Homo sapiens: one gene and its partners. The protein of the gene in region 2 purifies or fractionates together with the protein of the main gene of each other region. This does not show direct contact. Each region holds a gene or a part of one and is shown on either strand. Other genes may lie near its edges.

The links.
Region 1: the proteins of RPP25 (region 2) and RPP30 purify together in Homo sapiens (affinity purification with mass spectrometry; 4 studies listed by BioGRID and IntAct, with this or other methods). This does not show direct contact.
Region 3: the proteins of RPP25 (region 2) and RMP24 purify together in Homo sapiens (affinity purification with mass spectrometry; 3 studies listed by BioGRID and IntAct, with this or other methods). This does not show direct contact.
Region 4: the proteins of RPP25 (region 2) and RPP40 purify together in Homo sapiens (affinity purification with mass spectrometry; 5 studies listed by BioGRID and IntAct, with this or other methods). This does not show direct contact.

What each region holds. Positions count from the first base shown.
Region 1 is NC_000010.11:90,867,418-90,874,986, reverse strand, and holds the start of RPP30 (ribonuclease P protein subunit p30), read right to left. Parts: upstream 3,014-7,569; 5' UTR 3,001-3,013; coding exon 2,919-3,000; intron 119-2,918; coding exon 63-118; intron 1-62. UniProt on the Homo sapiens protein: Component of ribonuclease P, a ribonucleoprotein complex that generates mature tRNA molecules by cleaving their 5'-ends. Also a component of the MRP ribonuclease complex, which cleaves pre-rRNA sequences.
Region 2 is NC_000015.10:74,953,907-74,961,116, forward strand, and holds RPP25 (ribonuclease P protein subunit p25), read right to left. Parts: upstream 2,867-7,210; 5' UTR 2,678-2,866; coding exon 2,078-2,677; 3' UTR 512-2,077; downstream 1-511. UniProt on the Homo sapiens protein: Component of ribonuclease P, a ribonucleoprotein complex that generates mature tRNA molecules by cleaving their 5'-ends. Also a component of the MRP ribonuclease complex, which cleaves pre-rRNA sequences.
Region 3 is NC_000018.10:35,967,776-35,975,690, reverse strand, and holds the start of RMP24 (UPF0711 protein C18orf21), read right to left. Parts: upstream 3,013-7,915; 5' UTR 2,963-3,012; coding exon 2,886-2,962; exon of another isoform or gene 2,825-2,885; coding exon of another isoform or gene 2,807-2,824; coding exon 2,784-2,806; intron 796-2,783; coding exon 596-795; intron 1-595.
Region 4 is NC_000006.12:5,001,035-5,008,792, forward strand, and holds the start of RPP40 (ribonuclease P protein subunit p40), read right to left. Parts: upstream 3,004-7,758; 5' UTR 2,969-3,003; coding exon 2,846-2,968; exon of another isoform or gene 2,782-2,845; intron 1,212-2,781; coding exon 1,067-1,211; intron 1-1,066. UniProt on the Homo sapiens protein: Component of ribonuclease P, a ribonucleoprotein complex that generates mature tRNA molecules by cleaving their 5'-ends. Also a component of the MRP ribonuclease complex, which cleaves pre-rRNA sequences.

The DNA of each region.
Region 1 (7,569 bases), on a different chromosome or scaffold from region 2:
AATACAAACAGAATTACAAATACTTATTTATGAACTTATTAACTTTAGAAATATTATTTTACCTGTTTCTTTTCCTTAAAGTCAACGATATGATTGATAGCAACAACTGAATAGCCAACTGAAAAAGAAAAATTGAACACTTTTGTTAAATATAACAACCTCTCCTTCCTGTAACACAGGTCCATCCTGAGTCTAGATGTCAAGAGTAGGAGGACATTTGAGGAGTGGTTATGAATGTGAACTCTAGTGTCAGTCTGCCTGATTTAAAGTCTATGCACTACCACTTACAAGTTACTTAACATGAAGTTTCAGGTTCCTCATCTGTCAAATGGTGAAAATAACAACACTTTCTTCATACACTGTCATGAAATTTAAATGAAATAATACACATGAGGTGTTTGAGAACAGTGCCTGGCACACAGGTCTTTGTTTAACCATTATGAATTATTATTAAAATGATACTAAAGACTCTTAACTTTGTGCTTCTCCTTTTCAAATGTCATTCTCTTTCATGACCCTATATTCATTTTTATCCCATCAAGTTCCTACTTTATCACTGTCACTTTTATTCCCGTTCATTTCTTTTGCTTTTTATCCTTCTACTTCCTTCAGAGACTCCTTTCCTAAGGAGAAATGGAGTGATAACTCCCTCACACCACTGCCCGCTTCCCATTTTAAGCTGCACACCATCGACAGACTGGGAGCTCCTTGAGGTCAAGGGCTTGCTTTATTATCCTCATCAGTTAGCACTGTTCTGGACATTTGGGCTACCAAAAAAAAATCTAAATCATGACTCCCATCTTTAATTTTTAAAAATACCAATGGGGATGAAAGGATATTAACATTAAAATACATATCAATGCCAAACTCTCAACAGTTTGTCCAACTTCCTTCTTCCCTTCCTCCCTCAAATATTTACTGAGCATCCATTACTTGACAAGCCCTAAACTGGTGTTGAGCATACAGGATAAATAATATAATCCTTCTCCACAAGAAATTTACAGCCTAGTCTGTTGGAGAACGAAGGCAAATAAGGCAATTAAGCAAGTCATTGTATATAAATACATGTTTTTTATAAGTAAGGATTCTATGGAAGTACATAGCACAGTGAAACCTGGTGTAGGGGTCACAAAAGGCTCCCTGAAGAAAGTTACCCTTAAAAACAAAAAAAAAATCACAAGTATGCCTGTACCTTGGGCTTCACCTTGCACCCAGTTAGTCAAATCAACCAGCCACACCTCCTCCCTATTCTTCTTTACCACACTCCCAAATCTGCTCTAAACTTCCTTGTTATACCCATTTAGGATATCCTTTTGGCTACTAAACAATGTCCCTACCGTTCTACAGAAATGTCAACTAGGATCTGTTTCTCCACAAAACTTTTTCCTAGACTACTCCTCATCTGGCAGCTTAGGAGTACTTACTTCCCCAATCAGGCTTTAGGGTATTTTAATTTACACAGTATATTTCTGAAGCTTATTATTGGTTTCTTGTATCACATCAGAAACTGAGAACCAGGGCTCTGTCTTTCCTATTCTTTGCAAATGTCCACTATTTAGTTCCAGACTCATCAAATAGCAGAGCAGTCCTTTGTCTTTGACTTGTAAGTTGAGGCAACTTTATATGCCATGAATTCCATTTAATTTACAAACAAATAACCACTAACAATGTACATATATTACCACACCTCTTCCAAGTGTATTTTAAACTGGGGGAAATTCTCTAAAGAAATCATTATTAACTTTTCTTTTTTGTATTAATTTTTTTAATGTGTTCAGTTTATTCCACAAGCATTAACTGAGTAACTGCCATGTACTGGTGCCTGCAGAGTGAACGTGTTAAGCACAGTAAATAAAAGGATAAGACATGGCAATTCTCTTAGGAAGCTCATGATTTATTCAAAAATGGGATGGCGTCAGGAAAAGCCTCATTGAGGAGGTAATAATTGCGACAAACTACACCTAGGAAAACTTATTTTACAGGATCAAAGAACATTAGCGCCAAATGGCCCAGATCATCATGTCTACTTTCGTCTTCGTGCTGATGAGCAAAGTACCACAGAGATAACGTTCATTTAGTGGCAGCAGTGGAAAGGGACAGTCATTTCGCCACGGATACTTCATAAAGAGAACAATAAAAAAGTGGTGTGATTCACTTTGCCAAGAAGTGGTTGTCATTTCTAGCACCACCTCTGAACAGTATCAGTAATCAGAACTCACAATGAGCTGAAAACTGTCTCTGAGGAGCAGATGTTACTACACGAACCTCTTGATTCTTTTTAATCTCTCTATTCCAACACTTTACAGTCTACGGAATACAGAACCCATGACTAACTCCAATAGTTAAAACAGGTTCTCGTCTCTCAAGGCTTTCGCTTCCCTTCGATTTGGGCCATGCTATCCTCCTCCTCCACCTCCACTCCGCTGTGTATGTCCTCTGCCCCCACCTACCCTCTCTCTGTCTAGATAGTATTGTTCCAACACTCCCACGTCCTCCTCCTTCTCCGAGCCTCCACGGCGCTTCCTGTCCGTGCCCCAAATTCCAGTATTTGTTTAGACACTGTCGTGAGAATCAGGAAGGGCTGATAGTAACTTAGAAGCTTAGAAGATTGTACCCTTGGAGTCCAGCTCCGGCTTCTGTCACCTATCAGCTGTAGGCCCCTATGCAAATCCCTCGCCCTCGTTAGGCCTCAGTTCCCTCATTGCAGGAAAGTAGCTGAACCAGATAACAACCCCCAGAACCTTCGAGTTTCCCGCGCTAGGAATCAGACCAACACCTCGGCGGGCATCAGCCTCCAGGGACATCCCAGAGACTCTGGGAGACCTGACCGAGACCCATCAGGAAATAGTTACTCCGGAGTGTGGCCCGATGGTCTGGGTGGCATGAGGTTGGCCAGGCGCGAAGCCGGGGCAACTCACGGTGAGCGGCTGTCTCCACAAGTCCGCGCAGAGCCTTCAGGTCAGAACCCGCTCGCAGGTCCAAATCTGCAAACACCGCCATGCTGAAGTCCCATGACCGTCCGCGCGCGCCAGTCTGCGCAGCCGCTGAGCCCGCCCCTCAGGCATGCTGGGAGCTGTAGTTAACCTGCGCAGTCCGTCTCTACCTCCAGTTGACTAGGGATTCGGAGAAACTTACTTGCTTTGCTTTCATCTACCACCAGAATTTGTGTGTTGAAATCAACAGCTTCATTTCAATCTCTCTTTGTCTTCTTCTGAACGACAATGTTTGGTTCCCCCTGGAGGGGTTCCAATTCCCAACTATTCAATACTCCTATAAAATAGTGTAGAAATGAATTCATTCAAAATGCACGCACACGGTATCTACTTAGTGCTGCTCATGAATCAGAGAATTCTGCTAATGGGTGAAAACGCTATTTAAAGAGTCTTAAAGAACACGTTTTCCTTTCCTTTCCCTAAAGTCCATTCCGTTGTTTACAATGGACTTACCGGGAAGAAGGCGTTTGTGTGTGACGGACTCTAGGACTTCAAAAGAGAACTACCCCAAGACGAGGGTCTTTTTACCCAATCAGAACTGTTGATGTCAAAGCCCGCTATTCTCTGTGGCAGTCAACATCTTCAACCACAAGATGGCGGGACTCGCTCTAGGACGAGCGGTTAGAGCCAACATTGATTTAGCCAAAGACATGTTTGAAAAGGGAGGTGCAAAATTGAGATGTTTTACACTTTTCCAGCTGAGAAATGTACAAGGTGACGCATATCCCACATATCTGATGTTTCCACTTTTTTCCGACTTAGTGTAAATGATCTATTGAGGATAATAATCAATTATACTACAAAAGTGTGACTATAGTTTACATCAGTGCTCTCAAACTACCTGTGATGAAGGATCAGTTTCTCCCTCCTTTTCCTCTACCCCCAAACTCTTCGCGAACCAGGATGTGGTCCTTTATGCATTACCAGTAAGCAGCCTGGCCTCATGGGAATCACAAATTTGACAACACTCGAACTGCCCTATACCTGGCTGAATAGAATCTGCTGATCAGGAGCTTGGATTATCAGGACAATGCCAAAGTACTGTAAACTTTCTAAACATCTTCACTTTTTGTTTGTTTGTTTGTTTTATTAACGTGCGCACAGCAACAACAATCACAGAATTAGAGGCTCGGTCATTTGACCTAGGGAGTATCCTAGTTGGTGGCCTGCTGAGTTTTCGTTTCGTTTTGTTTTGTTTTTAGAGAGAGTATCTCGTTATTGACCAGGATGGACTCTAACGCAAGCAATCCTCTCTCCTAGCTGTGATTACAGGAGCCCACCCACATGCTTCACCCATCAATTTCTCTTATTTACTGATCACAAACAGTTCACAGATAGTCTCTCGTCTATGGACCACACCTTAACTAGTACTCCTTTATGCGATTTTCTTGTCGGTCTCAGAAGGGAGGAAGGATCTGTTCCATGCAGTAGCATGCAATTCTCTTCTTGGTTAACTTTTGTAAAGAAGAGATATTTTGCCTTTTCCAGTACTTGATATTTCCTAAGTGGGAGTAGAAGAGAATATTACTTCTGCAAATAGAATAAGGTCATATGAAGCAAACGCTTTGTTTTTCATGAGAATATCTAGTGTTAATTTTGCAGGGTCACACAGGCATCATCACCTATGACCATAACAATCTAGATTGGTCAGAAATATGACCAATGTGTGGTGAAGGTGAATAAGGTGATAGTTCAATTATTTTTTCATTTTTAGTTGACACATTGTAATTATACATATTTATAGGGTACAATTTCATGTTCTGATACATGTATATGTTGTATAATGAACAAATCAAGGTAATTAGCATATTCATCACCTCATGCATTTTTGGTGATAACATTAAAAAAAACTCTTCTAGCTGTTTCGTGATATATAAACAATACCTTACTGTTAACCATAGTCACCTTGTGTGCAATACAACATCAGAACTTATTCCTCCTATCTAACTTTGTACCTGTTGACCAACCTCTCCCCATCCTCCTCCCTCAATCCCTCCCTCAATACCAATCAGTTGGCTATAGGTGCATGCATTTATTTTTGGTCTCTCTATTCTGTTACATTATTGGTCTATGTGTCTGTTTTTCTGCCAGTACCATGCTGTTTTGGGTACTATAGCTTTGTAGCATATTTTTAAGTCAGGCTTTGTGATATCTCCAGCTTTGCTCTTTTTGCTCAGGACTGCTCTTGCTGTTTGAGGACTTTCGTGGTTCCACACAAACTTCAGGATTTTAAAAAATATTTCTGTGAGGAATGTCATTGGTATTTTCATAGGGATTGCATGGAATCTGTAGATCGTTCTGGATAGTATGTCTACTTCAACAATATTATTTCAGTTCATGAACATGGGATATCTTTTCACTTATTTGTGTCATCTTTATTTCCTTAATTTTTTTTATTGTACAGATCTTTCACCTTCTTGGTTAAGTTTATTCCTAGGTATCTTTTTTTGTAGCTATTGTAAATGGAATTGTTTTCTTGATCTTTTTAGATAGTTCCCTATTAGCATACAGAATGCTACTGTTTTTTTGTATGTCAATTTTGTATCCTGCAACTTCACTGAATTTACTTGCTAGTTTTAAATGGTGGAGTTTTTTTGGGGGAGCCTTTAGGGTTTTCCATGTATAAGATCATGTTGTCTGCAAACAGTAATGATTTGAGTTCCTCCTTTCCAATTTGGATGTCTTTTATTTCTTTTTCTTGCCTAATTGCTGTGGCTAGGAGACTGTTTAATTATCTGATGCTAGTATGAGACTAAAGTGGGCTTCTTTGAAAGTCACAGAACTTTTGCTGTGGACTGTACCATATAAACTTCTTTTCTTCTCTGCACCCTAAGCCTGGGTGAAGAGGAAGAGAAGAGGTAAGAAAGAATAGGAATAGATAACAATCAGTATTTAGCACTATACTGAGGGCCAGCGAATTTGCTAAGTACTTATGTATGTATCTTATTTTCAAAGCAGCTGTGTGTTAAATGCTGTTTTTTATTTTTGTTTTATTACTGTTTTCAGATCTAGACTTGCAGAAGTACTGTTTTTTACTTTTTGTTATTTTGTTTTTAAAATCAATATCCATTTTTTATATCTGAGAAAACTAAGGCATTATTAGTGGTAGAACTACATGTGGATGGAGGCAATTTGTTTCAGTTCTTGCCTAGTGTACTGCTTCCTGAGCAAAGCAAGCAGAGACTAGAGTTGTTTGGGAGGGAGGAGGAGAAGAAGAGAAAAGAAGAGAAGGGAGACCAGAGAGGAGAGAAGGAGAGTAGAGGAAAGGAGAAGTAGGAAGGGAGAAGGAAGGAAAGGAAAGAAGTGGAAGAGGGGAGAGAGAAGTGGAGAGAAGAAAAAGACAAGACAGAATAGGGGAGATGAACAGGGAAGAGGGGTCAGAAGTTGGCCTGAAGGGATGGCTGTGGCAACAAGTATCTGCACCTTGAAGAAGACCATAGAAATTTCTGACTGGAAGATAATAGTACTGTTTAAGACTGGTAGCAGTGGCTCACACCTGTAATCCCAGCACTTTGGGAGGCTGAGGCAGGAGAATCACTTGAAGCCAATTCACGACTAGCGTGGGCAACAAAGTGAGACCCTGTCTCTACAAAAAATAAATTAGCCAGAAGTGGTGGCACACACCTGTAGTCTGAATTACTGGGGAGGCTGAGGTGGGAGGATCCCTTGAGCCCAGGAGTTCCATGTTATTATACAATGAGCTATGGATTGCACCACTGCACCCTGGTGTGGGTGACAGAATGAGACCTGTCTCTTAAAAATCCTAGCTACTTGGGAGGCTGAGGCAGTAGAATTTCTTGAACCTGGGAGGCAGAGGTTACAGTGAGCAGAGATTGCACCATTACACTCCAGCCTGGGCAACAAGAGTGAAACTCCGTCTCAAAAAAAAAAAAAAAGTACTGTATAATTATGATAAGCATTTTACATCAGTTATCTGATTTGATCCTTACAATAGCCAATGAGAGAGATATTGTTATTCCCATTATATCAAGGAGAAGTCCTGGGCTCAGATAGGATGGCTCTTGAGTCATTTCTTCTTCTGCGGGAAGCCTAGAAAAAGAGGATGGTTTTTCACATCCAACGCAATCATTGAGCCCTTCTCATCCTCCCAGAAGAGCTCTCTTTTCTGGGCTGTGTGTGGGCTTGGGTGTGTGCTTGATTAGTCTTTGGCCTTATCCTAAGTTTATTCCATTCACCCCTCCTGAGTGAACTGAAAAATGCTCCACCCAACCCCTGTCCTCTTGCAGCTTAAGGCCGAGGGGGAGCCAGGCAAGAAAACCATATTATAAAATGATTTAGCCAGATGTATTGGGAGCACAAAGCAGAGATTTATCTCCCAGATTGAGAGGGAAGTTTGGGAGATCTGAAGGGAAAAAATGGCAGTTTCCTTGAGGGAGTAATGCTTGAATTAAATTTTGACACATGGAAGTGGAAGAGGAACATACATGAGACAGAGATCTAGGGTGTTGAGGGTATATCCAGAGCTGGCACAAAGTAGGTGGTACTCAGCCAAAAGTAACTGATTGAATAAATGAACTCATGGCCTCTTGTTTGACTTTGTTCCCATATCAACAGA
Region 2 (7,210 bases):
CATGTTGGCCAGGCTGGTCTCAAGCTCCTGACCTCGTGATTTGCCCGCCTTGGCCCCCCAAAGTGCTGGGATTACAGGATTACAGGCATGAACCACCATGCCCGGCCTCAGGCCCTGCTTTCATAGTCCTGGTAACCCGGCTATCAGTCACTTGTTGTCTTGGAAAGTTGGACCCTTTTCAGAACCAAGACCAGTCTCCCTTAAGCTTCTACCATGCAGGACCTTGTCCAAGTTTTATCACTGCCTTTAGATGCTGAAGTCCAGGAGAAGCTAGGCCATCTTGTCAGGACAGTTTACATTCTTTCCATGCTTCTTGGGCCACCCCTGAGAGGGTCAGACAAGCAAACCCAAACCCCTTGGCCCTCTCCAGGGACTCATCAAGAGCAGGAATTTGGGGAGAGCAACGAGGGACAAAGTCTGGATGACAAAGCTCACTCCAAAGCTCAAGCAGAGATACTGCAGGGGAGGGAAACCTCCCTAAGAGCCCCTCCAGTCAGCCACAGAACGTATCTCTTGTCACCAGCAGGATTTATTTCAGGGTTCTGCCAGCAAAATGACTTATAAATACATTCTTCCGCATCTCCCCCTTTCCAGGGGTGCTGCTGAGTTGCATGGGATGAGATCTGCTTCTGAGATCCTGGGGCTGTATGCCACCCCCAACTCACCAGAGCTCTTCCAGCACACAGCAGCACCCCCACCCCCCAGCTGGCTTGGAGTTGGGCAGAGAAGCTTATGAGGCTGTTATCTCTCAACAGACAGCTGTGCAGGGCTGGAGGCAGCAGCTTATCAGGAGGCCTGCAGTGATTCACAGCCCAAGACCCAGCTTCTCTGCTGAATAGTAATTTCCAGCAGTGGATTTGTGCTCAGTCTCTCTCCTCCCCCTTTCCCAAGGGTGTGCTGTCCTTTCTCAGAGAGAGGGCAGTGAAGGGGAGATCCTACCCACAGAGCTGGGGGCTTTGTGCCAGCCTTCTGGGTAAGGTTCAGTTTATTGTCTGGAGGCTGCAGATTCAGGGACCTCAGCAGGGTCTGCCACCCTTTGCAGTGACCTCCAGGAGAGTTCATCGATGCTGTCCTTCCACTCCTTCCTTCCCCTCCCAGAAAAACAATGTGCCGCTCCCTTTCCCTTAGTGGCGATGTACAGGGGTACACGGGCCCCCATTTGCAACAGCCTCTGAGGCCAGGGCCAGCCCGGGAGGGCGGAGTGGGGGAGGAGAGAGGAAGAAGCCAGGGACTGGGCAGTGCCTTGCACCATTTTGAAGCTGTTCAGTCTCTGTGCCTGACCCTGAAGACTCCAAAGACTCAGGACGCAAGGCTGGAGGGGAGGGGAGACACAAGGGGCCAGGCGAGAGCTGTCTCTGCACAGGCGGGTGGTTAGAAAAAAAATGGGGGACACAGCCATTTTTGTGCTTGTTTTATTGGAAGCAAGACTCCAGCCAGCTGCAGGGCTCAGGGGAGGAGGCCTGGAGAGTTCAGTCCTGGGTCTCCCTCTGGGCCAGCAGGGGGAAAAGGGGTGTTAAAAGAGCTAGAACCCTCAGAGATGCTCCTCTGAAGCAGGGGAAAGAAAACTAGAAAGGAAAACTGTCCCAGGGCGGGGAGCGGAATAGGGCCCCCACATCTCAGACTCTCCTACCCTCAAGCAGTTAATTCTCACCCCCTGCCTTCCTCTGTCAACGGTGGGGGTGATTCCAATAACTCTTCTCAGCTTCCATACTTCAGGTGCTCTTCGTGAATGCTGGGTGGCTTTAACCCTTGGGGGTCCCAAACAAGTTTCCAGAATCCCACTGTCCACCATTCTCCCCCAAAGAAGGTCCCAGAAAAGGTGAAGTTCCGTGTCTTCACGCAACACGGGCATAAGCAGCAATTATCGCACGAAGTTTCCCTAGGGTGGTCGGGGATCCTCTCCTGCCACTCCTGGGGCCCCTCTCTTGTCGCCTTAAGGTCCATGCTACCTGTCTTGAGGAGCTGTGTCCAGGTTGTGGGCTCCGGAGGACCGAGGAGTGAAAGGCTGGAGGTACATCTGAAGGTGGAGGCGCTGGCGGAAGATCCTGCCGGACTAGGTGGCCCACAGTCCGGAGTTTCAGGCCGTCTGATCCTCGTCCGCAACCCCTGGCTCGGGTTGCGATCGCTTCGCGGAGCCTTCTCCAGCTGCGGGTTCCCCTAGGCTCCTCTTGGACGCTGGCGCGGCTGGCGGGGACGAGGGACCAGGATGGGGATTCGGGGGCTGGTAGCCGGGCTGTCGCGGATCCAGCGCGTCCTTGGAAAGTAGGATGGCGAGGCCGGGCACGTTCTTAAGTACGCTGAGACTAGCGGCCGGCTCGCCAGGCGTCTGACCCTGCGTGGGCCCAGGCGGGAGGCTCTGCCACACCTCGCGTACGCTCCGGTAGCGCAGCCGCGTGACCTGGTGCAGGCCCGCCAGGCGGCGCTTGAGGATCTCGGCGCACGTGACGGTTTTGGTGGTGGCCCGGCCGCAGCCGCTGAAGACGATGGCGCGCGTGGCTGGCTGCGCCATGCTGGCGGTGGCGAAGGCCATCAGGTTCCGGATCTTGCTGCCTTCCTTGACCCGCATGTGCACCGCGCCCGGCGCCAGGTCTGCGAAGGGGCCGGAGCCCGGGCCGCCTCCCTCGGCCCCGCACCCCGCTGGCGCCTCTTCGGAGCGCACCTTACGGAAGTTCTCCATGCGCCGTCGTCGCCGGGACCGCCGGCTTTGCCATGGGGCGGCCTCAGCCCCGGGGCTGCATGGCCGCCGGTCGCGCCTTGCAAGGGCCAGCAGGGGTAAGGGCGCCGGAGCAGCGCAGACGCCGGCGGGCGGGCTGGGACGGCGCGATCTCGGCCCCACTTCTCTCGAGCGGGCGCCGCTCTACTCAGCGCTCTCGGCGCCGGGTGCTCCGCGCCTTTAGCTGAGGCCCCGCCCCTGCCGCCAGGCCCCTCCCCTGACCCGGCCCGGCCGGGCCCGCCCGGGCCCCAGCCTCACTAGCCTTTCCTGGCGAGTCTGGGTCCTCAGCTACGCGGGCGTGGGAGCGGGCGCGCTGCGGGGCGCATGAGCAGGTGAAGGTGAAGTTCCACTATAATCGCCATCAGCGCTCTGAGAGCCAACCCTCACAAACCGGCAGTCTAAATAAAAGCTGCGCTTGCCGTGCAAACACTGCTTCAAATCCGGTATCCGAGCCCTTCCCATTTGCAACTGAAGGCCGCCCCTCGTCCCCTCCCAGGGAGAGATTTCCAAGAGGCTTGCTGGGGCCTTGCCCCTCCTCCCCCGCCCCGGGGAACACCCCCACCTTTTTTCCGCTCCCAAGTATTCTTGCCTCAAGGACAGCTAGTGCGCGGTCAGCAGAGTGCGGGAGGAGCTGGCTGCGGCTCCACTCCGCGCCTCCCCGCGGGCGATTACGTCGCGGCGTGGTCCTCGCGGGGCGCGGAAGACCCAGACTTCAGCCTCGCCACGCCTGCCCGGAGCTCGAGGCTCCCGGACCCCCGTCCACCCCTGGGACGTGAGGAGTGAGGCTTTGGGCCAGGCTGTTCCCCGAGGCGCGTGGGGAAGCGGGCGTGACCTCTTCTGAAAAGGCGGTAGGCTCGCTCCACCCAGGCCCTAGAGCCCACCCTTAGAGCTGCGCGCTTTAGGGTGAGCCAGGCACGATGCCTTGCCAACGTGGCCGCCCCCTTCCTCCCAGGCGGAATTCGCTCAGGCAACATTGGCCCCTTGAGATCCAGTGGGGTCCTTTTCGAAAGGAGGCTAGGTGAACGCAGGTTTTAAAAAAGAGAAGGGAGGGGCCGGGCGCGGTGTCTCACGCTTTTAATCCCAGCACTTTGGGAGGCAGAGGTGGGCGGATTACTTGACGTCAGGAGTTCGAGACCAGCCTGGTCAACATGGTGAAACCCCGTCTCCATTAAACGTACAAAAATCAGCTCGGCGTTGTGGCACGCTCCTGTAATCCTAGCTGCTCGGGAGGCTGAGGCAGGACAAGCGCTTGAACCCGGGAGCTGAAGGCTGCAGTGAGCCGAGATCATGCCACTGCACTCCAGCCGGGGCGACAGAGCAAAGCTCTGTCTCGAAAAATGAATAAATTAATTAATTAAATAAAATACAAAAGAGAAGGGAGGGATACCCCATTCTCCAGGATGTGATTATTATGCATTGCATGCCTGTATCAAAACGTCTCATGTACCCTCTAAATATAGACACCTATTGTATACCCACAAAAATTAAAAAGACTTAAAAAAAAATAAAAGAGAGAAAGAAGGGAGGAAGATGGGGAGTTGAAGCCCTGGGGGCATTATGGAACTACTGGATGCCTCTCCGGCGGAAACTCCACGGGACCGAAAGAGAGGCCCGGGGTCTCCTGCCGGGTGAGAGAAGCATTAGAGAAAGATGAGATTGGGGGCTGTCAGGACTACTGATGGAAGGGAGGGGGTCTGAGAAGGGGCCCGACCCTCCCTAAAACTGCTCTCGGGATTCCCCCGTCCTCCTTCCACCCGCCCTACGCAGTCAGGACTGAGAGAGGGCGGCAGATCTGGTCCTAGCCAGGGGACTGTGACGGGGCGTGGCGGGGAGGGACACAGAGAGCTGGGGCGGGCGGGCCACCGGGAAAGTGCTGGGGGCATGACAGTGCCTTGGATTGCTGGGCCTCAGTTGGAGATGGGGCTGCCAGATGCTGTTCTCCCTCCTCCCGCTGTTCTCGCCCTCTGGGCATCTGCAGCAGCTCTCAGTCCCTGCTGTTCAAAACCAGGGTTTACTTCCTTGTCACTTCTTGGGAGCGGCCCTCGGTCCCTGCTGTTCAGAACCGGGATTTACCCTCTTACCACTTCCTGGGAGTGGCTGCGGCGACTGGACCTTGGCACCGCAATGTGTGAATGGCTGACCCCCTCCCCGTCTCCTGGTGGGATCAGGAACCCTCGGGGTATGCTCCGAACCGGGACTTCGGTCTCGGTCCAGTCTCCATGGGCCCCACACAGCGGTGGGGGCTGGAGGCACAGCAGCCTTGGGAAGAAACAAAGACTGTCCGCAGCGCGTAGCGGGGCGTGGAGAACCGAGGGCTGTGTAAGGTCAGGCCCTGAGAAAAAGCCCCCGAAAGGCTGGAAGTTACGTTGGAACGGGCTGGTTGTGGAAGGAGCGAGCTCTCCGTCCCCGGGAGTATGCAAGTTTGGGCTGCACGATCACTTGGAAGGGATTGGGCGGAGTTCTGTCATTTGGAGAAAGGGTCCTGGGAGCTTCAGGTTTGTGTAGGGCGAGGACGGGGCGGTTCTGCGTCCGGCCAGGTTGGCCCTCGAGGACCCAGCCGTCCCCAACCTCCTAAACTGCTGTCGGATGTAGAAGACTCGCATTCACTGCTCTCCACAGTCGGTGAAGGGAGAACGCCGAAAAGGGCCGCATTCCCTCCTGCCGGTCCCCTCCCCTTCCCGCGCTCCCTCTGCAGCACTTAAAATGTAAATGTACATCGTGATTAGCCGCGGGGTCGCTAATTACAGCTGAAGCCATTCATTACACTGTCAGCGCGCGTCGCAGCCCGCCGGCTGTGCGCTCCCTCCTAGCCGTGAAGGGGTGTAGGGGGTGGGGGCGGGAGATGCGGGGAGTGAGGGAGGAAGGATGGGGTGCTGTGAATTAGGGTAATGTGGCAGGCCTGGAGGAAGCTGGAGTGGGAGAGAGCGGGCAGCGAGCGGGGAAAACAGGGTGGGCGGTGAAGGACGGGGCGGGGTGGCGAGGAGAGAGGAGAAACGCGAGAGGCAGGAAGGAATTGGGGCATGAAGTAGTGAGGACACAGGGAAAGGGGCTGTATGAGGGGGGAAACAGCGTAGGGGACAGGGCGAAGGGAGAAAAAGCTGAGAAGAGGGTGGGAACCCCAGGGTGGGGCCAGAGTCAGAGGAGGGGAGCACAGGGCTCAACTTCAGAAAGGCTGGTAAATTTTAAAGTAGAGCATCAGTGGTGCACACCACACAATGGTTAGAAAAGTGGAGTCAGTGAAGACGTTGTGTTAAAGGAGCTGGGTGCCAGCCATACACAGAGTAGGGGGGCATTTATTTCCGTGTGTGTTTATAGATGTAAATGTATTTTTAAAATATCTGCAAGAAAACAGCACACTGACCTCTTGTTACCGCATGAAGTTTTCATTACCTTCTTTAAGAAAAGGACAATTAAATATGAATACAGAGTCTTGGAGCAGCTTGCATAAATGAGCTACTGACCCTGAAGCTTCAGCTTCTATTAGCTTCTTTCTGCCTCTGTGTGACCTTGGACAATTTACTTAACCCATTTGCTTTGGCTTTGTCATCTGTAAAATGGGGCTAATTATAGTAATCTACCTCACAGAGTGATTATGAGACACAGCCGTCTTGGAACCTTGGCTGCTAAGTTCTCAGGAAATGTTGGCTGTTATTATTTTTCATATATTATTTGTGAATTTAAAAAAATTGTAAAGGGATTGGGGGAAAGAAAACTGGTGAAAAGGAAAAGAAATTGGGAAAGACTCAGAAATAATAGCAGTTTTCACTCACAGTGAACTGGTGAGTGGCAAGCTAGACTCCTTTCACCCTGGGAGGAGGTGTTGGGGTAGCTGGGCTAGAGGCCAAGCCTAGCCAATACATATCTGTTAAGGTTCCCTGGGACCTTTCCAGCAGCACACCCTACTTCCTGTGGACAAATCTCTCATGTTCACACTGGAGGGGGATCGCTGGTACAGCCCCTCTCCTCTGTCTCTTGTTGCAGGAGGAGGATGAGGAGCTCTTAAAACCCCTGATCCTAGTCCCAGCCTCTTTGGGCAGGGTCTTGGGAGCATGCAAGTAGAGTCAGGAATTAGAAAGTTAGCAGGGCCAGGCCGGGCGCAGTCGCTCACTCCTGTAATCCCAGCACTTTGGGAGGCAGAGGCGGGCGGATCACGAGGTCAGGAGATCGAGACCATCCTGGCTAACACAGTGAAACCCTGTCTCTACTAAAAATACAAAAAATTAGCTGGGCGTGGTGGTGGGCGCCTGTAGTCCCTGCTACTCGGGAGGCTGAGGCAGGAGAATGGCCTGAACCCGGGAGGCGGAGCTTACAGTGAGCCGAGATTGTGCCACTGCACCCCAGCCTGGGCGACAGAGCGAGACTCCGTCTCAAAAACAAAACAAAACAAAAACAACAACAACAAAAAAGAAAATTAGCAGGGCCAGAGGGAACTCAGATTTAGCAGGCACCCACCGAGTGCCCAGCATTGGGTCAGATGTGTTTAATCTCCACACTCTT
Region 3 (7,915 bases), on a different chromosome or scaffold from region 2:
AAAGTGTATTTGCTACTGGCCTCCATATAGTAAACCGTACGTAATCTGATTTTGGTTGTTTTATTCCATCTTATATCCCCAATATTAAATGTTGCTTGGCATATGATAGACCCTCAATAAAATGTTGAAAGAACAAAAGATGCATTCACCTTTGTTGGGCATACCTGTAAATCCACTCTGACATGGAGTGGGAGGACAGCTGAAGAAGTGACATGATACCTACATACATAACATAGTACTATCTGAAGCAAAGGAGCATTAACTGAAAAAATAATGTAGTGGTAACTGCAATTTAGGTGGAGCCATAACGGTCAGTTCAAGAAATCCGCACATTTGTGAAAAATAATGCTCAACAATGGGATCTCAAAACAATTGAGAGCTCACCATGTTTGGTTTAGGTAATCATGAAAAATAAAAGTAAGCTGTCCTTATAATGAAACACTAATCATTAGAGAAGTGTTTATGTATATATTTTGATAATCCAAATATACTACTATAAATCTCTGAGTTATACTGAGGCTGATTCTTAAACTGATTTTAAGTGAAAGAAAAGAAAATTCTAGTTTACTCATACATACTGGAACTGAAATCTTACCAATACACTTTTGGAGTCTTTGAACTTTTTCACCATTTTTGCTTCTTTAAAACTGAGTGTATAGTTTCTCGCTTCTCGATTAAGAAGTTTCTGTATTTTGGGTGTCAACCTGGCTTTGGGTTTGAGACGCACTCGAGAGTTATCCAGAACCAACAGCTGGAAACAGTATGGACACGTTTCTTCAAAAGTGCTCTTATCATCTAAAATTATACAAATGAAACTCACAATTCAGCAAATCAGAATATTTTGTTACCTCAAACTGTCAACATTTATAAAAAGTATATTGAAATTTAATATAAGCAGATACACATTAAGTAAACTCAAAATATGAAAATTTACAAAAAGATAAATTGGCAGTAATTTACCTTGCAAAATACTACAATTCCATCCATTCACTCCTTTCAGCAACAGATAGGCAAATCTCCAACCTATGCTAGCAAATCCTGTAGGCTTTAAAATATATCCTAAATCTAGCCACTTCTCATTACTTGCTACTAAGTTTTAAAAGGCTGTTATGTTTCACCAATTTTACCAATGCATTTACCACAAAATAACAAATTGCACTGCGATTTTGTTTCTTTTTTTAAATAATTAGCACAATGAATAGTATCTACTGTTGAGCACTGTGCTAAGTGCCAGGGATGCAACAGCACTTATAAAGCTAAAGACCACACTTAAACTTAGCTCTGCCAAATGTGAAACTCATTCATATTCACTAAGTGACAATTAAGAATGCCAGGCACTGTTCTAAGTGCTGGAGACACAGCAGTGAACAAAGGACAATTCACCGAGGCATACAATAAATATAACAACGTCAAATGTTAAGTGCTGGGAATAAAAAAGTAAGATAGGAGGGGGGAATAGAAGTATTGATGGAGTTACTGTAATTTTAAATAGGTGGCTAGGGAAAGCTTCATTGAGTGATATTATAGAGACCAGAGGGAAATGGAGGATTCACATGAAAGCAGATATGTGAGGCAAGAATCCCAGGCAGAGTGAAGAGTACCTGCAAAGGCCCTGAAACAGAAAAGCAAGGAGACCTAGTGTGACTGGAGTTGCGTGAAGGAAAGAGTACGTCAGAGAGGTATGCAGGTCTATGACACAGGGCCTTACAATCCTTTTAAAGGACTTTCACTTTTATTAATCCAGGAGAGAGCTGGTGATGGCCTGGAGCAGGGTAGTAGCAATGGATGTGGTGAGGAGTGGAGTGCAATGGCGCCATCTCCGCTCACTGCAACCTCCACCTCCCGGGTTCAAGAGATTCTCATGCCTCACCCTCTCGAGTAGCTGGGATTACAGGCGTGCACCACCATGCCAGGTAATTTTTTTGTATTTTTAGTAGAGACAGCGTTTCGCCATGTTGGCCAGGTTGGTCTCGAACTCCTGGCCTCAAATGATCCGCCCGCCTCTGCATCTCAAAGTGCTGGGATTACAGGGGTGAGCCACCGCTCCTGGCTGATTTTGGCTACATTTTAAAGCCAACAGGATTTGCTCGCATACTGGCCTGGGGGAGGAGAGAGAGTTAGGGAGTCAAGAATAGCTCCAAGGTTTTTGGGCTCAATAACTGTAAGGGAAGAATGGAATTATTTACTGAAATGAGAAAAACTGGAGGATCTTGTTGGGGGTTAAAGCTCAGGTTTTGGACATATTAGCTAAGTTTGAATTACTAGACATTGAAAAGAATTTGTCAAGAAGACATTCGGATATATGAGTCTAGAATTCAGAGGAGAGGTCTGCGCTGAGTATATACATTTGTAAGTCCTCAGTATATGGTATTTAAAAGCCATGAGATTGGATGAAAAACTGTCACCAAGGAAGCGAGTGTGCCTAGAAAAGAGGTCCAAGGGCTGAGTACTGGGCCACGACAATACTTAAAGCTTGGGGAGATTAGGAGGAACCAGCAAAGCAAATCGAGAAGTAATAAATGAAGAGGTGAACTACGTAATGACCTAGAAGCCAAGGGAGGAAACTATTTCAAGACTGATCAATGTGTCAAATGCCGCTAACAAAGCAAGACAAGGCACATTAAAGAATTTGGATTTTTCACGAAACCGAGACACATGCGGGCTTTGTTGTTGTTGTTTTTATGGAGGGAAGTGAGTCCATCGGCCTTATTTGAGCGTTGTGCGGAACAGAGGAAAGCGGGGCGACAAGAGCCCAAAGCACAAGAGACAGGCGTTCTTCTTACCGTGCGACGAAGTGTAGGCCCAGCTGTAAAAGAGAAAGAGACTTGTGAGGAGCAAAGGAACACCTACCCGCTCGCCTCCCGCTTCCCCTCCAGTCCTCTTACAGGAGGTAGCGGGCTTGGCCCGGGCAGCTGTCGTGCAGTCCCCGCGCTGCAGCCTCAAGGTAGTGCTTCTGTCTCATCGCCGCCGCCGCTGCCGCTGGCTCGCCGCGGGAACCAGGTGAGAAAATAGGGCGCCGGAAGTCGGCTTCCCAGCGTCCCCGTCGTTGGTGTCCGGACTCAAGCTGCTTCCGGAAACAGGCACCGTAGGCAGACAGGTTCCGGTTTCCTTCGCGTCCAGTCTGGCTTGGAGGCGTGCCCAGCCGGGAGGCGGCCCCACCCGCCCGCCGCGTCCCCGCCCCCTCAGTTCCACCCCTTGGCCTGCCGGGTCCTCTCAGGCACCCAGCGGAGTTTCGAGTCAGACTTGAGCTCGGGCGTAGCGGCTAGACCGGGCTGTGGCGATAGAGTCCAAAGGTGAGGCTCCCACCCGCCTCTCCATCTTCCTCCCGCCTCGCCTCCTCTCTGACAGCCCTTTTGTGATTGCCCTGCCGCAGCTTCGCCCTCCACATTCGCCGGGCGCGGTACTGACTGGTGCGCCGGCGGGCGGAAGCGCTGCCAGCAACGAGGCGGCCGGGAGGAGCGTCCCCAGTCCAGCCTGCCCTCCGCCTGCGTAAACGCTAGCGTTTCTCTTTTTGTAATTAAAGTGAAATTCACATAACGTAATATTGACCATTTTAAGGTGAACAATTCAGTGGCGTTTAGTAAATTTACAATGTTGTGCAAGCACCATTCTGCTATTTCCAAAATATTTCGCCGAAGGACAGCCAACTCCATGAAGCACTTACGGCCAATCCTCCTCTCCCTCCCAGGCCTTGGCAACCACCAGTCCGCTTTCTGTCTCTATGGATTTACCTATTCTGGGCATTTCATGTAAATGGAATCATACACACGACCTTTTGTGTCTGGCTTCCTTCACCTAGCATAATGTATCAGGTTCATCCACCTTGCAGCACGTATCAGTACTTCATTCGTTGTTATGGCTGAATAATATTCCATTGTATGGCGGTATCACAATGGTTTATCCATTCATCAGTTGAACGTTTGAATTGTTTCTACTTTTTGGCTGTTATGAATGAATGCCGCTGTGAACATGTGTGTACATGCATTTGTTTGAGTGCCTTTTTTCTGTTCTTCGGGGTATAATACCTAAGAGTAGATCTGCTGGGTTATGTAGTAATTCTGTGCTTAATGAGGGTTCCAGTTTCTCCGTATCCTCACCAACATTTGCTTTTCTTTTTCTTTTTTTTTTAAATCTAGCCTTCCTAGTGAGTATGATGTAGCATCTCATTGTGGTTTTGATTAACATTTCCCTGACTACTGATGCTTTTGAGCAGCTTTTCATGTGCTTGTTGGCAATTTATGTATCTTTGGCTGTTTAAGTTCTTTGCTCATTTTTTATTGGAGTTGTCTTTTTGTTGATAAGTTGTAAGGTTCTTTTAATGTGTATGTTCTGGATAGTGGACCCTTATTTAGCCTGCTTTATTTATTTATCTGAGATGGGATCTCACTCTGTTGCTCAGGCTGGAGTGCAGTCGTGTGATCACAGTTCACTGCATTCTTGAATTCCTGGGCTGGGTTAAAGGGTTCTCTTGCCTCAGCCTCCCTAGTAGCTGGGAACCAGGCACACTACCATGCGTAGGTATTGTTGTTGTTGTTGTTGTTGTTGTTATTATTATTATTATTTTGGTAGAGATGGGCGTCTCACTATATTGCCCAGGCTGGTCTTGAACTCCTGGGCTCAAGTGATCCTCCCACCTCAGCCTCCCATAGTGTTAGGATCACAGGTATGAGACACTATGCCCAGCCCATTTTTAATTTTAAAAGGGAGCTAAATTGGCTAGGCGCAGTGGCTCACGCCTGTAATTCCAGCACTTGGGGAGGGCAAAGCGGGTGGATTGCCTGATCTCAGGAGTCGGCGACCAGCCTGGGCAACACGGTGAAACCCTGTCTCTACTAAAATACAAAAATTTAGCCAGGTGTGGCGGCATGCGCCTGTAGTTCCAGCTACTTGGGAGGCTGAGGCACAGGAATCGCTTGAACCCAGGAGGCGGAGGTTGCAGTGAACCGAGATCACAGCCACTGCACTCCAGCCTGGGCGACAGAGCGAGACTCCGTCTAAAAAAAAAAAAAAAAAAAAAAAAGGCGGGAGGCGGGGGGCTAAATTATATAAAGATTTGTAAAGAGAAAGTATATATTTACATCTCTATAGGCATTTTAACTTTTTCCGAAGAAAAGTTATTTTCCCTGCTCTTCCCACCTTTCCATCCCACTTCTCTGAGGCGATCAACATGAATAATTGGGTGTCTCCTCTACCTATGTCCTTATACACTTAAGTACGTGTATAAATATGCTACCCCCCACCACTTACCACGACCACAACAAAAAGAAACAAACCAAACACACACACAAAACCAAAACCAAAAGTAAAATGTTAGTTCCTTACTGTATAACTTGTCTTTTTTCCTTAACAGCAGGCCACAGACATCTTTTCAAGTTAGTACATGCTTTTAAATAGCTGAACATATTACAAAATGTAATGAAACATAATTTAATTTATTTAATAAATAACCATATTTTATTTTCCTATTGATGTTCATTTGGAAAAAAATTCGTGCTTTGCTAGTTAATACAGTACTGGTGGTTTTATTTCTTTTGTCTGAATTCCTAAAAGATAAATTACTGGGTAGAATAATATGCACATTTTTTATATGCCAGATCATCCAGAAAAGGTTGTAGCAATTCATATTCCCAGCATCAATGACTAAGAAGGCTGGGTCAAATTAGATAGGTGAAAGGCAAATCCTCTTTTCATTTATCCCTTGATGGTTTGCATTTTCTCTTATGAAGAGAAATCTCTTGTTGGATTATCAGTTTTTAGAAGATCTTTTATTTTGGTGAAATTCACTTTCTGCTTGTCATATGTGATGCAATATTTTCTTCTTCCTTATCTTTGGCATAATTTATAACTTTTTAACATTACAAAATTTTGTATGTGATCAAACAAGTCACTCTTTTCATTATTGGATCTGGGTTTTCTGTGTGGTCTAAAAAGTCCTGCTTTGTCAAAGTTAGGCAACTAACTATTCAATTAGATTTTTTTGTTTGTTTGTTTGAGACAGAGTCTCACTCTGTTGCCAGGCTGGAGTGCAGTGGTGCGATCTTGGTTCCCTGCAACCTCCGACTCCCTGGTTCAAGCGATTCTCCTGCCTCAGCCTCCCGAGTAGCTGGGATAACAGGCATGCACCACCATGCCTAGCTAATTTTTGTATTTTTAGTAGAGACAGGGTTTCATCATGTTGGCTGGGATGGTCTCTATCTCCTGACCACATGATCCACCTGCCTTGGCCTCCCAAAGTGCTGGGATTATAGGTGTGAGCCACTGCACCTGGCTAATCAGATGTTTTTCTCATACTTTTCTAGTATGATTTCTTCCATGCACATATTTAATTGATATGAAATGTATTTTCACTTAAATGTAAGAGCATCTGACATTTTTTCAAAATGGATAGTAAGTTATACAAAAGCCCCATGCTAGGTAAACTAGTCTTTTTCCATTTGAATTGAAATAAAAATAATATGCAATGAGCACTGTATATGTGCCAGGCACTTTTCTAAGCATCTTAACGTGTATTAATTTATTTAATCCTCACAACACCACCATGGCATAGGAGAAATGCCACTACACCATATAGAAGTTCTGTTTTGTTTTGTTTTTTACATAGTTGTATCTGTTTCTAGGTCACTAATAAAGCAGAAAGAGGGAAAATGTGAAAATGAAATCCAATATGTGTGCATGTGCTGAGACCCCAGTGGCGCTAGAGGAATTAAAGACACACGCACAGAAATATAGAGGTGTGAAGTGGGAAATCAGGGGTCTCACAGCCTTCAGAGCTGAGAGCCCTGAACAGAGATTTACCCACATATTTATTAACAGCAAACCAGTCATTAGCATTGTTTCTATAGATATTAAATTAACTAAAAGTCCCCTATGGGAAAGGAAGGGATGGGCTGAATTAATTGCAGCAGGAACATGCCCTTAAGACACAGATCGCTCATGCTTTTGTTTGTGTCTTAAGAATTCCTTTAAGCGGTTTTCCGCCCTGGGCGGGCCAGGTGTTGCTTGCCCTCATTCCTGTAAACCCACAACCTTCCAGCTTGGGCGTTGGGGCCATTATGGACATGTTACAGTGCTGCTTCTTCCTTCCCACGGCTTGCAGCTGGTCTGTCCTCAGGTCCTGCTGGCTCTTCATCAGAAGTAAATCATGACTGCCCGCTTCTCTGCACCACCACAGCCACCCTCTTCTCTTGCCTGCACCCCTGCTATGGCCCTCTGCATTCGTTTCCTGCTTCCTCTTTTATCTCTCCCAGTCCAATTGAAACTGCCTTTGCAAAAATTAACAGTGAAATGATTAGCGTGAAAGAGATCTGACCTAACCAACTCCATCTTGCTTCTAACCTCTAAGCTGTCCTTGTTCATTCCCAGGAATTGGCTGAACTAATTTTGGGAGGAACTTAGTTTATAGTTTAACTTTGTAACAGCCCTTTATAGTTTGACTTTGAAATAAAGATGATATCAGCTCTTTCCCAAAACAAAACCCGTTCTTGCCTGGGGACCAGGCTGCCTTTGTAGGACTAACAAATTAGCTACAAGATTAGAAATTATGGTTTAGGAGCCATGCAGCTGGAGGCTGCAAGATTCTGATCCTCCTCAAATTGCTCCTGGGGATAATAACATCACTGTTGTAAAATCTAAGATCAGTGCTTCGTAATCTGGCTCAACCAGTTCTGTGATCCTCCACTGGAACAGAAGACAGCAAGAAAAACCCACTTTAACCCCCTATGATTTTTTTTTTTTTAAGCTCTGTTGTCCAGGCTAGAGTGCAGTGGCGTGATCTCTGCTCACTGCAACCTCCGCCTCCCAGGTTCAAGTGATTCTCCTGCCTCAGCCTCCCGAGTAGTTGGGACTACAGGCATGCACCACCATGCCCGGCTAATTTTTTAAAATTTTTGGTAGAGACGGGGTTTTGCTATGTTGG
Region 4 (7,758 bases), on a different chromosome or scaffold from region 2:
GCCTATTTGTGCAAGTTTACTATCATCAAGCAAAAAACTGACTCAGAACGGAACGTGACCTTTGGGGATGCGCGGAGAGGGGTCCAAAGTAGAATTCTAGATAAACATACACCTCTCAGAGACAGAGTTCCAGGTTAAGATTCAAAAGCTACCCAACCTCTCCAAGCCTCAGTTTCCTCACTGTTAAATGAGGATCATAGGCTTGCTTCATAAAGTTGTTGCAAGGGTTAAATTTGGTAAGACATTTAACAGTGCCTGCTACAGCCATTGTCCACGTAATTCACAGAGTGGTGTCAGGCCTTGAAATAGATGAAAGGAATAACGGTGATGAGACCAGACAAGATGCCCAGCTCATAAGTCGCCCCAGCAGTGTCAGAATGAGAGGAGCTACTGGTAACTAGAGTTCTTCATATCTTCACTGGAGAGGACACACATGGGGGCTACCACAAGATAAGCATGTGGCCACTGTACAGGTGAGTTATGTAGTGTGGGTGGAATCCCTAAAGGCCCTCTGAAATAGTTTCAAACAAATGGCTCCCAGGAATCAACTGAAACAAACCAGTCCAACCCAGCAGATATGGGTGGAAATGGGGTGAGTAGAGGAGGGGTTATGGCTACAAAATCTAAGCAGAAGACACTGGACCCCAACAAGCACTTTGCTCTGTGAACAGTAGCTGTGGCTGTATCGGGAGACCAACCCTCTGAGACAGCTGCTGTGGGACTGCTGACAGCATAGTGTCTTTGCAGCCACATCTTCAACAGCAGTGCATCTGAACACAGACTGCAAGTCTCTCCTCTCCATTAATCCTCATTTTAAGGGGACGGATACTGTCATGTTACAACATCCCCATCCAACACTTGTGGCCAATTGCAATCAGAAACCACCACCTAAAGAGGGTACAAGAAAGAACAGGATGAGAATGCGGGGGAGAACGCGTGTGCACCTGACCACACAGACTATACCACAGGCCCTGTTTGAAACAAAACAACAGCCCTAGCATCGTGATGTGGTCTCCCTACCCTTCCTCATCCAGCCTTGTTCACAGCCATTTCAGGTTTTTCTTACCTTTCTTTATAAAGGTACTGATGAATTCAGGTGTAATTAATTCATGAAGAGGTAAATTCTTCACAAAGTAATAGGGTCCAGTGTTCATGACCAGGTTTTTCAGTTCTTCCGATAGTATCCCACATTCAGGAATGAGAAATGAAACCTATTGGAATGTGTAATACAAACAAGGTCTTACTTCCATGAAGATGAACACCCAGGTTTTTAGGAATGAAACAAAATCATGAAAGTTGTTATTTCTCCACGAGTTTCACTGGAACATAAAAACACGGGCAACAAAACTCTTATGTTAACTTACCTATCTCAGGCAAAGAGAAATCTGACTACTTAAGTTTTTCATTTCTGCATTCAAACGTACAGTACAGGAAGGGGATTGAACAGAATACTTTTAATGGAAAACTCGTGCTTGCATTTAATCTTTTGCAAATTAGCAATGCTGTATATTTTATGTCCTGTTCCTTTCACTATTTTATTTTCAAGGAAATATAGTATAATTGAATATCCCTTGATTTGTTTACCCTGGTGTTATCCTGGAATGAAACAAACTATCTGTCGGGGCATAAGGAATTAATTTATGGACATCCAATTACTAAGAATCTATGTGCAAGCAATGGTGCTCCTGTATGTTTTCATTTTCGAGACAGAAAAATGCAACAGGCGAGTTAAAGTATACATCCCTGACTGCTGTGATGAGCTTGACATCCAAAATAGGTGTTAAAAACAGGGCAGGCTTCAAATGTTGCCACATTGTAAAAGTCATCACTGTCCCAAGGCTCAAACACCAGCCTGTTCTGACTGATCAGGTCACCACTTAACATCTCTGAAACACTGCTCAGTCAAACCTGAGTTATTAAGCTGATCCATTTAAAGTGTAAAATGTTTAATCCCCCATGATAAGGTTAGTTTCTTGAAGTCTCTCAGATATCAAATTAGTTCCAACAACCAATTTAGAAAATCAGTCGCTTCGGCCGGGCGCGGTGGCTCACGCCTGTAATCCCAGCACTTTGGGAGGCCGAGACGGGCGGATCACGAGGTCAGGAGATCGAGACCATCCTGGCTAACACGGTGAAACCTCGTCTCTACTAAAAATACAAAAATTAGCCGGGCGTGGTGGCGCGCGCCTGTAGACCCAGCTACACGGGAGGCTGAGGCAGGAGAATGGCGTGAACCCGGGAGGCGGAGCCTGCAGTGAGCCGAGATCGCGCCACTGCACTCCAGCCTGGGCGACAGAGCGAAACTCCGTCTAAAAAAAAAAAAAAAAAAAAAAGGAAAATCAGTCGCTTCCTGGGCCGAGCCTAGGCAGGATGCTCTGGTGAGATCCACAGGTACGCAGGTGGGAGAGGGATTCAAGCTGGGGAGGAGGCAGTGGTGGGGAGGAGGCGCGAGACCCGCCCTGATTTGGGGAAAAAGCGAGGTGCACGTGGCTGCCCCACAGCCTAACTCCCTGGTCCCGGCCCTGAACCTCGAATCCCTCCCTGGACTCACTCCCAGTTCGGCGGGTTGACACGAGTGAGCAGCCAGAACGCCCCTGACAACAGCTCCCTCCAGACTGGGTACCGCCCCCACGCCCGGCGCATCCTGGGAGTTGTAGTCCTGTAGCCCTGCAAGCCACTGGCTTAGAGCAGTTAAGAGACTACAACTCCCAGCAAGCCGGGCGAGGGCCCCGCCCCTCCGCGTACCGCCGGCGGCCCCGCCCCGCGAAGCCTAGCACTCTCCCCAAACCTCTCTCGCACGCGGGGACTGAGCACGGCCCGAAAAGCCGAGGACAGCCGGACTCACCCTGTAGTTATAGTAGTGCGTCTGCACAAGATGCCGGTGGCGCGACTTGTGGTTGCCGAAGTTGGATTTCTCGCAAACCAGTAAGTGCCGCGGCGCCTCCCGAAGCCGGCGCAGCGTGGCCATGCTCTCCTGGGTTCCTGGTCCTCCCGGCCTCCGCTGGCGGGGCACGCCCCGCCCCTTCCTCCCGCCCCGCCCCTTCCCTCCGGCCGCATACCCGCTGCTGTGCGCCCCTGGCGGCGGTGGAGTGGGGATGGCGGCGCTGGATTTCTGAGCAGTTCTTAGACTTCTTAGGAGCCCACGCAGCCGCTCTTTGGTGGATGTCTGAAGCTGTAAATTCACTGTCCCAGTGGCTGGGAACCTGGCTCTTGCCTTTTCAACGCCACTTTTCCTCCGTCCCCGCCATCCCTTGGAATTGCCCTAAACCCTCTCTGTGGGCCCCGCCTCGGAGCGCCCCTTGGACCCCAGCCTGGCGCCGGCGCATACCTCGGTCAGGCCCCTCAGAGGGACCGCTTCCTGCCACCGTTATAAAAGGAAAACATCGCATGGAAAGGCCCAGTTCCTTTAGTATATGGTCAAGAAATGTAGCCGCACAGTTAAGTAACCCCCTAAGCTGCTTTGGGGGCCACACCCAGCTGCTTTCTGACTTCTCACACTGTTTGGTTCACAGGACTCTGTTACCCATTGGGGACCTCTTGGCCATTATTAACACAGGCCAACAGGACTAAAAGTTTGTATCAGTCCTTCCCAAAACATTAGGGAAGGTTGTGCGGGAAGGTAAAGCACAATTTTTGCCTTACAATAGGACTCCTTTGAAACTACTATTGAGTTCCCTTTTAAATAGCCCTTCAGAACCGCTTTTAATAATGTGTTGTTTCTGGGGGTTAATAGTGATAATTCTCCTAAGTCATTTTTCCATTTCGTTTTTCTGTCACGGGCTTGGAGCGGTTAAGAGACTGCGGCTCCCAGCATGCGGTACGTTACTGATCAGGGCAAAATCAAGTATGTTACTACATGCTTCTCAAACTAGAGAGGCACAGCCCCAATTCTGCACTGGCAGGATACAAAACAGCAGAATATTGGTGATACATCTTCCTGGAACATCAGTTTTTCTATGAGATGTGGAAGAAATGGAATTAAGTAGTTTACAAGGTAAATAATTAAGAATTTAAAACTAAGCCAGTCACAGTGGGTCATGCCTGTAATCCCAGCACTTTGGGAGGCTGAGGTGGGAGGATCACTTGAGCTTAGGAGTTCAAGACCAGCCTGGGCAATATAGTGAGACCCCATCTCCAAAAATAAAAATAAAACTAAGACAAGGCTGGAAAGTCATCTGCCATTATAAACATCAGTAATCTGGCCGAGCACAGTGGCTCACGCCTGTAGTCCCAGCACTTTGGGAGGCTGAGGTGGGAGGATCACTTGAACTCAGAAGTTCACGACCACCCTGGACAATATAGTAAGACCCCATCTCAAAAAAAAAAATTAAAACTAAGACAAGGCCGGAAAGTCATCTGCCACTAAAAACATCGGTAATCTGGCTGAGTGCTGTGGCTCACGCCTGTAGTCCCAGCAATTTGGGAGGCCGAGGCGAGCAGATCGCCTGAGGTCAGGAGTTCAAGACCACCCTGGCCAACATGGTGAAACGCTTTCTACTAAAAATACAAAAATTAACAGGGTGTGGTGGCGCATGCCTGTAATCCCAGCTACTCAAGAGGCTGAGGCAGAAGAATCACTCGAACCTGGGAGGCAGAGGTTGCAGTGAGTCAAGATCTCGCCACTGCACTTCTAGGCTGGGCGACAGAGTGAGACTCTGTCTCAAAAAAAAAAAAAAAGTCAAAATGTAATCTATGACTGAAATGTCACATTTTCTTTCCAAGGAAAAACCTAATGAGAACCTGTTTCCCATTATTTTAAACAGCAGAATTATAAGGCGTGGCAAGTTAATTAAAAAAAACCCTACTAATTTCCTAGATCACAATATGGCAGCTAGATGTTTTATAAATAACAGCTACTAATAACATGTTAAGATGTAAAAGGCTTAAAGCATTGCTTCTTGGTCACCTCATATTTAATGTAATTGTCACCAGACAGTTGCTTTGTGTGTGGTAGCAGTGGCCCAAGACTGAAACATCACGGATGTACCTCTCCTTTGTCGACATTCCAAAACTCCACAAAGTGACTGGTGTGATCCTGATGGTCTACCAATTGTATTTGGAAGCACCGTGAAGCTTTTCCAGCAAACCATTTAGTTTAAAATGTTGCATATTTTGAAGATGCAAAATAAATTCTATCTATGTAAATATCAGCTGAAAAATGTATTGAGAGATATAAACTGCCCTCTTCTCAAGAGAGACCCCACAGAGTCTTGCAGCTTTAAGTCCTCCTCTCTGGCTGCTGATAACCCCTAGATGTGGCGCCTCTTCCCTGAGCGGAGTATCCAGATGACTCTAGTACAAGGACTCACCCCTGACTTCTTCCCTTCTCACCCGCCATGCAATCCCACAGTAAGTCTTGTGGCCCTGCCTGCAGCACGCATCCTGATTGCAGCCTCTTCTTGCTCTCTGCGTTTCTACAGCCAGTTTCAGCCACCTTCGTCACTTACTGGCCTGCTGCCCAAGACTGCCTCCAAACCTTCTCCTTGCTGCCTCTCTTGCCCTCCCACAGTCCATTCTCCACTCAGCATCCAGAGTGATCTCTTAAAAACATGAAAAACATAATATACCCCCACAGCCCCATTTAGACCCTACCACTGGCTTCTCACTGTGATGGAATAAAAGCTTACACATTGGCCTGAGCCTGCCTCTTCAGCCTCATCTCCTTCCCTTGCTTATTCACACTCTGTCTGTCAGATTTTCTGGTCTCTAGAGCTGAAAGCAGTCTTAACTGACAAACAGATATTAGATCATAGAATCTAGAGCACAGGGTATGGAAGGAAAAGTGCAAGATGGAAAAGCCAGAAATGGTTAAAAAAAAAAAAAAGCACATGAAACAAAACATATCTATATGTATACCCAAAATAGTAACATAATTTTGAAAAATCTGAGCTAATAGACTTGCAAAGAAATAGAAATATCTTTGATCATATTCTGAAAACAAAAAAATATAGACTTAGTAAATATAAAAGGACAAAAATTTTACACATCCCATTTCCGGGCCATAATGCAATAAAGTTAGAAAGAACAGAAACAGAATTGGCCGGGTGCTGTGGCTCATGCCTGTAATCCCAGCACTTTGGGAAGCCAAAGCGGGTGGATCACGAGGTCAAGAGATCGAGACCATCCTGGCCAACATGGTGAAACCCTGTCTCTACTAAAAATACAAAAACTAGCTGGGTGTGGTGGCATGCGCCTGTAGTCCCAGCTACTTGGGAGGCTGAGGCAGGAGAATCACTTGAACCCGGGAGGTGGAGGTTACAGTGAGCCAAGATCTTGCCACTGCACTCCAGCCTGGCAACAGAGTGAGACTCTGTCTCAAAAAAACAAACAAAAACAACAACAAAAAAAAAAAACAGAGAAAGAAACAATTTAAAGATGCTCAACTCTTTGACAATGTTAAAATATTCTTTTAAATAAATTAATGCCTGGGTCAGGGTGCAAATCCAAAACACAATGACAGTGTCCATAAACTTCTGTGCTTGTAAATGTATCATAACCATATACAGGCCGTATTGGTGAAAGGAGACAGCTGTCTGACTCAGAAACACAGGGAGTGATCAGGTTATGTTCATTAGGATCCTAGCACTGCCCTGGAGTTGTTTAACATCATCTCTTTACAGTTAGGAGCAGACTGCAGGGAAATGTATCTATTGCAGACAACTGTGCTAAATCAGAGGCCGCCCTCCTGCTGAACCTGAACTTGACCTCACAGTTCCTGTCAGCACAGGGTTCTAGGCAGCTGCTACAAATCAACTGGTGTTGGCTTACAGATTGAAACTGCCCTCAGACAGCAGAGTGGAAACTGGCACCAATGGCTGCAATGGAGAAAATTAATGGCCTGTGGGCCACACACGGTGGCTCATGCCTGTAGTCCCAGCACTTTGGGAGGCCAAAGCGGGTGGATCACTTGAGGTCAGGAGTTCGAGACCAGTCTGGCCAACATGGTGAAACTCTGTCTCTACGAAAAATACAAAAGTTAACCGGGTGTGGTGGCGCATGCCTGTAATCCCAGCTACTCAGGAGGCTGAGGCAGGAGAATTGCTTGAACCCGGGAGGCGGCAGTTGCACTGAGCCGAGATGGTGCCACTGCATTCCAGCCTGGGCAACAGAGTGAGGCTCCATCTCAAAAATAATAATAAAATAATAATAATAATAATAATGGCCCCTGCTATGGTCTGAATGTTTGTGTTCCCCCAAAGCTCATGTATTGAAATGCAATCACCAATGTGATGGTATGAGGAGGTAGGGCATTTGGGAGGTTAGAAATGGGATTCATGCACTTATAAAGGAAGCCTCAGAGAGCTGCCTTTCCCCTCCTTCTATATGAGGACAGAGGGAGAAGATGCCATCTAATGAACAAGAAAGCGGCCCCTCCCCAGACACTGAATCTGCCAGTGCCTTGATCTTGGACTTCCCAGCCTCCACAACTGTGAGAAAGAAAAGTCTGTTGTTTATAAGTTACCCATTTTATGATGTTCCCTTATAGCAGCACAAATGGACTAAGACAGCCCCCAAGAAGAATGTATGACCCACCTAAGAACTAGACAGTGTCATTTTCTCCTGGGCTGCTCTCTCCGTGACTGGAGTGGAGATCAGTGAAGGACACAAACATTAACCATGGCAGCTCCATAGGCCATATCGCTGTACGGAGGTGCACAAATGAAGTCATGCCTTAAAAGCAGAACATGGCCAGGCATGGTGGCTCATGCCTGTAATCCTAACACTTTGGGAGGCTGAGGTGGGAGGATTGCTTGAGCC